Homo sapiens: one gene and its partner. The protein of the gene in region 2 purifies or fractionates together with the protein of the main gene of each other region. This does not show direct contact. Each region holds a gene or a part of one and is shown on either strand. Other genes may lie near its edges. The genes, in order: KCNMA1 and KCNMB1.

What was found.
Region 1: the proteins of KCNMB1 (region 2) and KCNMA1 purify together in Homo sapiens (affinity purification with western blotting, with the first as the bait; one study listed by BioGRID). This does not show direct contact.

Annotation. Positions count from the first base shown.
Region 1 is NC_000010.11:76,885,609-76,889,424, forward strand, and holds part of KCNMA1 (Calcium-activated potassium channel subunit alpha-1), read right to left. Parts: intron 2,674-3,816; exon of another isoform or gene 2,436-2,673; intron 1,908-2,435; coding exon 1,658-1,907; 3' UTR 1-1,657. UniProt on the Homo sapiens protein: Potassium channel activated by both membrane depolarization or increase in cytosolic Ca(2+) that mediates export of K(+). It is also activated by the concentration of cytosolic Mg(2+).
Region 2 is NC_000005.10:170,387,037-170,390,952, reverse strand, and holds the start of KCNMB1 (calcium-activated potassium channel subunit beta-1), read left to right. Parts: upstream 1-1,585; 5' UTR 1,586-1,694; intron 1,695-3,916. UniProt on the Homo sapiens protein: Regulatory subunit of the calcium activated potassium KCNMA1 (maxiK) channel. Modulates the calcium sensitivity and gating kinetics of KCNMA1, thereby contributing to KCNMA1 channel diversity.

The DNA of each region.
Region 1 (3,816 bases), on a different chromosome or scaffold from region 2:
CTCCCTTTTACCCCTATTCTATTCGATGGAATTCTTTGAAGTAAAACTTTTCAAATATGTATATACCAGCCTAGTCCATCCATAAGGGAAATTGGTTATGGTGAATTGGCCAGTTTTTAAGAAATACCGCACTGCCTAAAGCATGATTTGCATGCACAAAGCATCTGACAACTATATGTTGAAAAAAGGGTATTTTTCTACCTCTCCTCTCATGCTTACTAAGTGTTAAAAAAGAAAGAAAACAAAAGAAGAAAAAAATAACTATACCAAAATGTGTTTGGCTCACTGTTGCACTCTTCTTATCCCACGTCTCATAATGACAAGGAGCAGCTCTCTATTGCCGTCATTACCCTGCCTAAATTGGCTACATTAAAGAAAGTGATGATGAGGAATTCCTTCCCACCAGCTTTCTGCATTGGGACAGCCAGCACCGCACAGCTGTGCCAACAGTTGAAGGTGGTGGCTGGCTTTTGTCTTTGTTGAGTCAACTGTGGCTGATCCTCCTACATTCTAATTTATTTAGCATGTCGGCTCCTAGAAAAGCATGATCTGCAGCTGGGTTTGTCTTCCTCTCACTCTACCATTGCCCCAGCCCTTCCTCCTACCTGGCATTGGGGCCCTAACTAATCAAACAAAGGGGAGTAAAAAGATCCCCTGAGAATGCATGGAAAAATACTTGCTCTTTCCTGAGCATTATTTATTCTGTACATAAGGTAAGTAATTCACCTTTTAAAAGATGTAAAAGTCCCAGGAAGGCAGTTTTTAATGACTTACATCTGATATTTATGATACATATGGCTTTTCATCCCAAATGTCAAAAGTGAAAGAAAAAAAATAGCTATTCATATGGCAACATAAGGAGACAGAATAACAATTTAATATGCAATCAAACCTCTTTTCACTTAAACTAAATGACTAGAATTTGATACATCCATGATTGGAATACTATTCTCTCCTCCATATTAAGGTGAGAAATGTTCATAAGAACTCCCAGAGGGAACTGGCTCTGGGACAAAAGGCCTTGGTGAGTAACTAAAAAAATCACTGATGTTCTCTTGCAACAAGCAGGTCCTTCATAATCATCTACACAAATCGTGAAAGCTTTTCAAATGCTTCGCAATACTTCGGCCCAGAGACTGGAAACAATCAATATGTTTTCATTGCTGTTTGGTTGCTTGTTTCAAATAAACATGTGCTAACTTATTGTGTGTATAAAAAAAGAAAGAAAGGAAAACAACAACAACAACAAAATCAAAACCCAAAGCACCCTGATAATCCTGATAAATCAGAATCAACTTTTCTTTTACATTAAATAAACTTGCTCTGCCTAACTGACGTTGATCACAAGTGCTCCCTTCTAATCTGTGAACTCGTTCCTGCAGTGAGCTATTTATGTCTGGAGCATGCCTTTGGGTTATTTTTCCCCCAGAATCATAAATAACTTTTGGTCCGTCTGCTTATTTGCTGTTGTGCTCAAGGGTTTTATGGTGGTGAAATAAAAATGACAACCACATGCACACTATCATACATATGCAAATATGTGTAAAAAAAAAGGGGGGGACTACAGGGGAAAACAGGGAAAGTTACTTTGTTGGAAACACCAACTGGGGAAATGAGTGGCAGATACAGTTTCACACAGTGGCGGTGGATACACATATCAAAGCCGCTCTTCCTGCACGTACTTCTGTTTGTCCCGGGACTCCCTGGACTTGGGCCGGTTCTGTCGGTTTGCTGTGGATGGGATGGAGTGAACAGAGGAGCTCTTCTTGCTGGAGGACTGCGACGAGTGGGAGGAATGGGACAGGCTGGCCCGGGACTGGCCGGCATTGTGGTCAAACTGCATTAAGCAGAAGATCAGGTCCGTCGGCACGAGCTCAAACTCATAGGGCGGGTTGGTGATGACATACCTGGACAGGGAAAGCAGAGATGTCACCTCCTGAGAGTAACTGAGTAAAGAATTCAACTCTCTCTGAACCAAAAGCAATGGCCTGGTTACTCAGGACTTTCAGAGGATCTGGAAGATGCACTCCTAGCTGGTCTGAGGCCTTAAACATTCTTTTTCTTGTTAAATGGAAACTTCCTCTGTTTAACTCAATAAAGGAGGCCAGCCAGGAGCCCAGGCAGAGATGTGGAATTAGAGCCAGTAATGGAAGAACCAAACTTCGCTTCTCGTGGTCTACATGTACCTTTCTATACAAGGTCAAAGTCACTTTCAAGTAGCCCAACCGCAAGAGGTTTCATGAAGTGTGATGCAACTTTCATTTCATAATTTTCGGACAATCCCAGATATACATCACAAGATCTTTGTTTACCATGACAGAGTGTCTCCTTAGACTATTCTCGCTCTTTACCTTTTAAAATCTACTTTGGTGAGAGAATTTGGAATTTGGAATTCACCACATGGAAGAATCTAAGAAACCTGCCTACTTATCAGCACTACTTTGTTGTTCTTCACAATTAGTTGGAGCTTTCTTTGGTCAACAGCAGATGTGACTAAGAAAATCACGCTGTTTCACTTAGAGCAGTGGTCACCAAGTGTGGTCCTTAGGCCACACAGGTCAGCATCACCTAGGAACTAGGAAATGCAAGTTCTTAAGCAATCCCACCCAGACCTACTGAATTGGAAGTGCTGAGGATGGGGTCCAGCAATCTGTGGTTGAACAAGCTCTGCAGGTGAGTCTCATGATGGCTAAATTTTGAGAACCCACTGGTCTATAGCAATTGTTCTCAATTCTGGCTATACACTATAATCCCTGGTTATTATATATAAAATGTTTACATAATTTAAAATATATATATGATGTTTTCTTCCTTCCAGACCAGTTAAGTTAGAGTAATCAGAATATTTTTTAAAAGCTCCCCAGGTGATTCTACTATGCAAGCAGGGATGAGAAACGCTTGTCTCTGCAGCACTGTTGCCTAGGGTATATTATGCAAACTCACTGATCTTGGTAATTCTAGGATGTACTTTTAATTTTTGCCTGCTATGAATTTATTTTAATGCATATGAGAAAAATATAATTGGCACATCTAAACTGTTATTTCTCTGCTTAAGGTGATAATATATAATTGTCTCAAAAATAAATATATAAAAGTTAAAAAGCGAGTCAATTTAAAATATGTGAAGTAAAAATATGGGATTCTGAGATATGGCAGAAGAACCACTTATCTTAGGGCGGGGTGTGGTGGCTCACACCTGTAAGCCCAGCACTTTGGGAGGCCGAGGTGGGTGGATCACTTGAGGTCAGGAGTTCGAGACCAGCCTGGCCAACAAGCCTTCTCTCTACTAAAAACACAAAAATTGGCTGGGTGTGGTGGTGTGTGCCTATAATCCCAGCTACTCAGGAGGCTAAGGCAAGAGAATCACTGGAACCCAGGAGGCAGAGGTTGCAGTGAGCCAAGATTGTGCCACTGCACTCCAGCCTGGGCAACAGAGCAACACTCCATCTCAAAAAACAAACAAACAAAAAACAAAAAAACAAAAAAACTTATCTTAAACACTAGCAATGTAAAATATCTCTATATTAGGTACCAACAGATGTTATCCTAGTAGCTAGAGTTTGGGAGAGATGTTTGTGTATTCAGACTTTTGTAATTAGGTGATGGAATTATTCTATTAATACAAAACTTGAATTCTTACCAAAATGTCTTTACATCTACTATTAGTAATTATAGAAAAATGCTTCCCATCACCTCCAAACTCAGTGTTGGATTTAATATGGGCAGAGTAATTTGCATGTTGAGGAGATGTATACAGACCTTTGCCTTTACAGTAGGGGACAGGAAAGGATATTAATATTTCTGTGATTAGGTGGG
Region 2 (3,916 bases):
GGCCTGAGTGGCTGCCTTCATTTCGCGCCTGCTGGAGGCAGGAGGGAGGAAGGTGGTGAGCTCGCTCAGCAGGGAAGGCCAGGCTGCACCCACCTCCCTGGGGGCTGGGGAAACTCAGGGTGACCTCCAGAGCCTCAGGTGGCAGCTTACTGTATGATCGAGGTGATTTTTAATGTCTCAGAGCAGCCCCAGGGTCATCAGAGACAGACCAAGCTGTGCCATCTGGAAGGGCCAGCTTCGAATCTAGTTCTGGCCCCTAGGGTTGCACCAGTGACTTCAAGCCTCCAAGTCTCAGTTTCAGGTTCTTTGATTCTTGGGTCAAGTGAAGGGTGGAGATAAGCTGCCTTCTACCACCACGCCTGATACTTAGGAAAGCCCCAATATCTGGGATTGTTTTTGTTGTTTTGTTGAAAATATATATATATATATATATATTTGTTTTTTTTTTTTGAGACGGGGTCTCGCTCTGTTCAGGCTAGAGTGCAGTGGCACAATCTTGACTCACTGCAACCTCCGCCTCCCAGGTTCAAGCGATTCTCCTGCCTCAGCCTCCCAAGTAGCTGGGACCACAGGCATGCACCACTATGCCCGACTAATTTTTGTATTTTTAGTAGAGATGGGGTTTCGCCATGTTGCCCAGGATGGTCTCAAACTCCTGGGCTTGAGCAATCCATCTACCTTGGCATCCCAAAGTGCTGGGATTATGGGCGTGGGCCACTGTGCCTGCCCTTTGTTGCTGATTTTTAATCCTTACTTCCACTTTACAGATGAAGAAGCAGAGATCTAAAAGCATGTTTTTTGCCTGCAAATGCTGACATTCACTTGTCTTATTGCTAGGAAGAAATCTCTGTACTTTCGCGGTCTCTGGGAGGGCCCCTGGTGAGCAGACTGTCCCTGGACCTGGTTGGAAGCAGTTGTGGAGCTCTCACTACTCCCAGCTTCAGCTCAGTTGGTCCTTAAAAAGTCAGTTCTCTCCCCTTGCCATAAATCCCCACCGTCTCTAACTCCCATCACTACCCTAAAGCAAAGTAGGTTTTAAAAATGCCAGTAACACAAGTGAGAAAACTGAGGTCATTTAACGATAAGTTTGGGAGTAAAACCAAAAACAAAAAAGGAAACTGAGGCCCAGAGAGGTGCCATAACTTGCTCAGGGTCACACAGCACGTAAGTGCCAAAGGCAGGGAGCTGTAGCTGCTCCAGCGTGGATATGCCAGGGACTAGTGACAAGCCCAACCCCTCCAGCCCAACTCCACCCTTCCTCATGCCAACAAAAGGAGAATCATTTCCTATTTCTGGCATCTTTGCCAGCCCACAGAGACAGAGAGAAGAAGAAATATTTCCAAATATACCAGGCTGATCTTTCGTAGTTTCTCAGTCTTGCTGTCTGTTGTTGTTTGAAATCTGTTTCCCACGAGACTCTGGGAAGATGGAGGTGCAGGGCTTGGGTAACAGCTGCCTTCCTCAGGGCTGGGTACCTGCTCTCCGAGTCTGTGTCTCCAGGCTGTGTGCTCAGACTTGACCATGTTTGGGCATGGAGGCTTGCCCCAGATGGGGACCAAAAGCTGCTTCCCTGGAGACGGGCGGGGAGGCCAAACTTCCTGCTGAAGCTCTGTGGCCTCTTTTGGGGTGGGGGCGGGGGTCCAGGCAGAAAGAAACTGTCTGCTGCTCAAGACCCACAGGACGCCGGGAAGACTGTGAGTACCGGGCCTGAAAGCACTTGGGAAGTGATTTCTCTGAAGACCGGGCTGGAGGGAGACAGGGGAAAGCAGCCTGCCACGGGGCAGGGAGGGAGGCAGGCAGGAGGACTCCCTTCCTCTCGGGGCTGTCCTTCTGGATGGAGGGCCCGTGGTCTGGTGGCCAGTGGGGAGGGTGGCACAGTGGCCAGGTTACTCTGGTAGTAAGCGCCCTGGCCCTCTAGGTCCCAGTTCTCAGAGTGGCCAGAAGGCTGCAGCCTGGAGATTAACACCAATGCTGGCACTTGTCACCGGTAGAGAGGTGGGACAAAAATAGATTCATCAAGAGGGGTCCAGACTTCTGCTCCAAACTTTCAGGGTTTCCTTCGTTAGTAGTAATAGCTAATATTTACTGGGGGCTGATTTGGGGCTAGGTGCTATGATACATGTCTGATACTCAATATGGCATTTGATCTTTAGCTGAACTCTCTGAGGCAGGTACCATGGTTCTCGTTTCACAGTCATGTGGTTGCTAAGTGTAAGTGGCAGAGCCAGGATTTGATTCCATGTCTGAGGACCTCAGAATCGCCCTGTCCACACCCCACCAAACTGTTCAACAATGTACTCTATTCCTTGTCCTTCTAAGGAAAAGGATGTCGACCCAGCTATCAGGTCACCCAGGACACTCCAAAGTCCTGCCTTCCTTTGTCCTTCTCCATCTTCTCTGAATCTATCCCAGATCTCAAGTGACCTTTCTAAATGGGAAGATATATCCTGGAACTTCAGAGATATTTAGAAATGCTCAAAACTGGGAAGTTCTTCTTACAGTCTAACTGAAATCCCTCCTATGATAGCTGAAACCCACTTCTTCCTTTTCTTTCTGTCCCTTGGGGGATATTGACAGTTCCCATCCTTCCTCCCGCCAAAGGTTCTCCCTTTGGATGCTGAATACTAACTTCTTGCTGAAGTCATATCTACACTGAACCCCACGCATGGTCTTAGGAGGATTTATCATGACTCTATAAACTCACTCAGTGCAGGCAACAATCTCATCAGACCATTAGAGACGGGTCAGACCTGAATAAGCCAAGTTTCCAGACTTCTCTGTGACAGGGAAGCCTCTCCTTTCCTTTCCTTCTGAGCTCCTAAAACTGGTAAAACCAGGTTCCTGCCTTCACCAGCCTCAGGAGTGCCCAGGGGCCTGAGAGGGCACTAGAAGCCAAATAGCAGAGGAGGCCATGGCCCTGGGCGCTGGGGGGGGCTGATTAGCCAGGAAGGAGCCACAGGAAGCCCCCACAGGTGCGATCCAGTTCCCCCAGGAGAGAAATGGCTTTGTTGTGGGCACTCAGCCCTAGGCTTCCAAGATGGGATTTCCCATTGGCTTCAAATGATTTATGTCTCACAGTATCTGGGGTGGGGCCAAGTGCCAGTGACCCTTGCAGGTCCTGGGGAAGCAGGCTGTTGGGGCTTTTAGCTTACCTCCAGGTGATTCTGTTGCTTTACCTGTGAATACATGGAGAGTCTTGTTCAACTGACGCCAGGTAGAAAAAGGCATGGGCTCTCCCATTCCCACAAGATCACAGAACAGGAGGAAAAGGATTGAATAAAAAGAGTTGAATAAAACATCTCTCTTTGTCGGGGGCAATTTCTGCTTGCTTGTGCTTTTATAATGTCTCCATTAGAATGCAGGAGAAACTCACCTCCTGGTGCCAAATAAAGGAGAAAAAGTTGTCATTGGATGTCACCTCTGCCGATCGATAGGGGAGGTGGACCAGCTCACTGGGAAGGTGTGATGGGTATCCGTGGTGCCTGACCCTGGTCTCTTCCCTTTAGCGGAGATGCCCGGGTATGAGGGCAGCCTGGCTAAGGGGAGGGAGTCAAGAATCTCTGAATATTTGAAACAGTCTAGTAGTTAAGAGACGCCTGAGCAGAAAATAGAGCACTTTGCAGAAAATCTCTTTGGACTAAGGCCTGTCACCCGGACACTGGCTAATTAAACAAACAAAAACCATAATATGTTTATTACTTTAGGGACCTGGCAAGGAGAATAAAGTCCCCCTGATATCTGGCTAAAATTTCCCCTAAATTCCCCTAAAATTTCCCCTAAAATGGAGGATTACATTGATAGCTTCCTGGTATTTTTGGTAGAAATGGACTCTGGTTACTTTAAACAAATAAAAACAACAGCAAATAAATTTACCAGAGGCTCTAGGACAGCTTGCGGAACCATGGGAAATCACGCG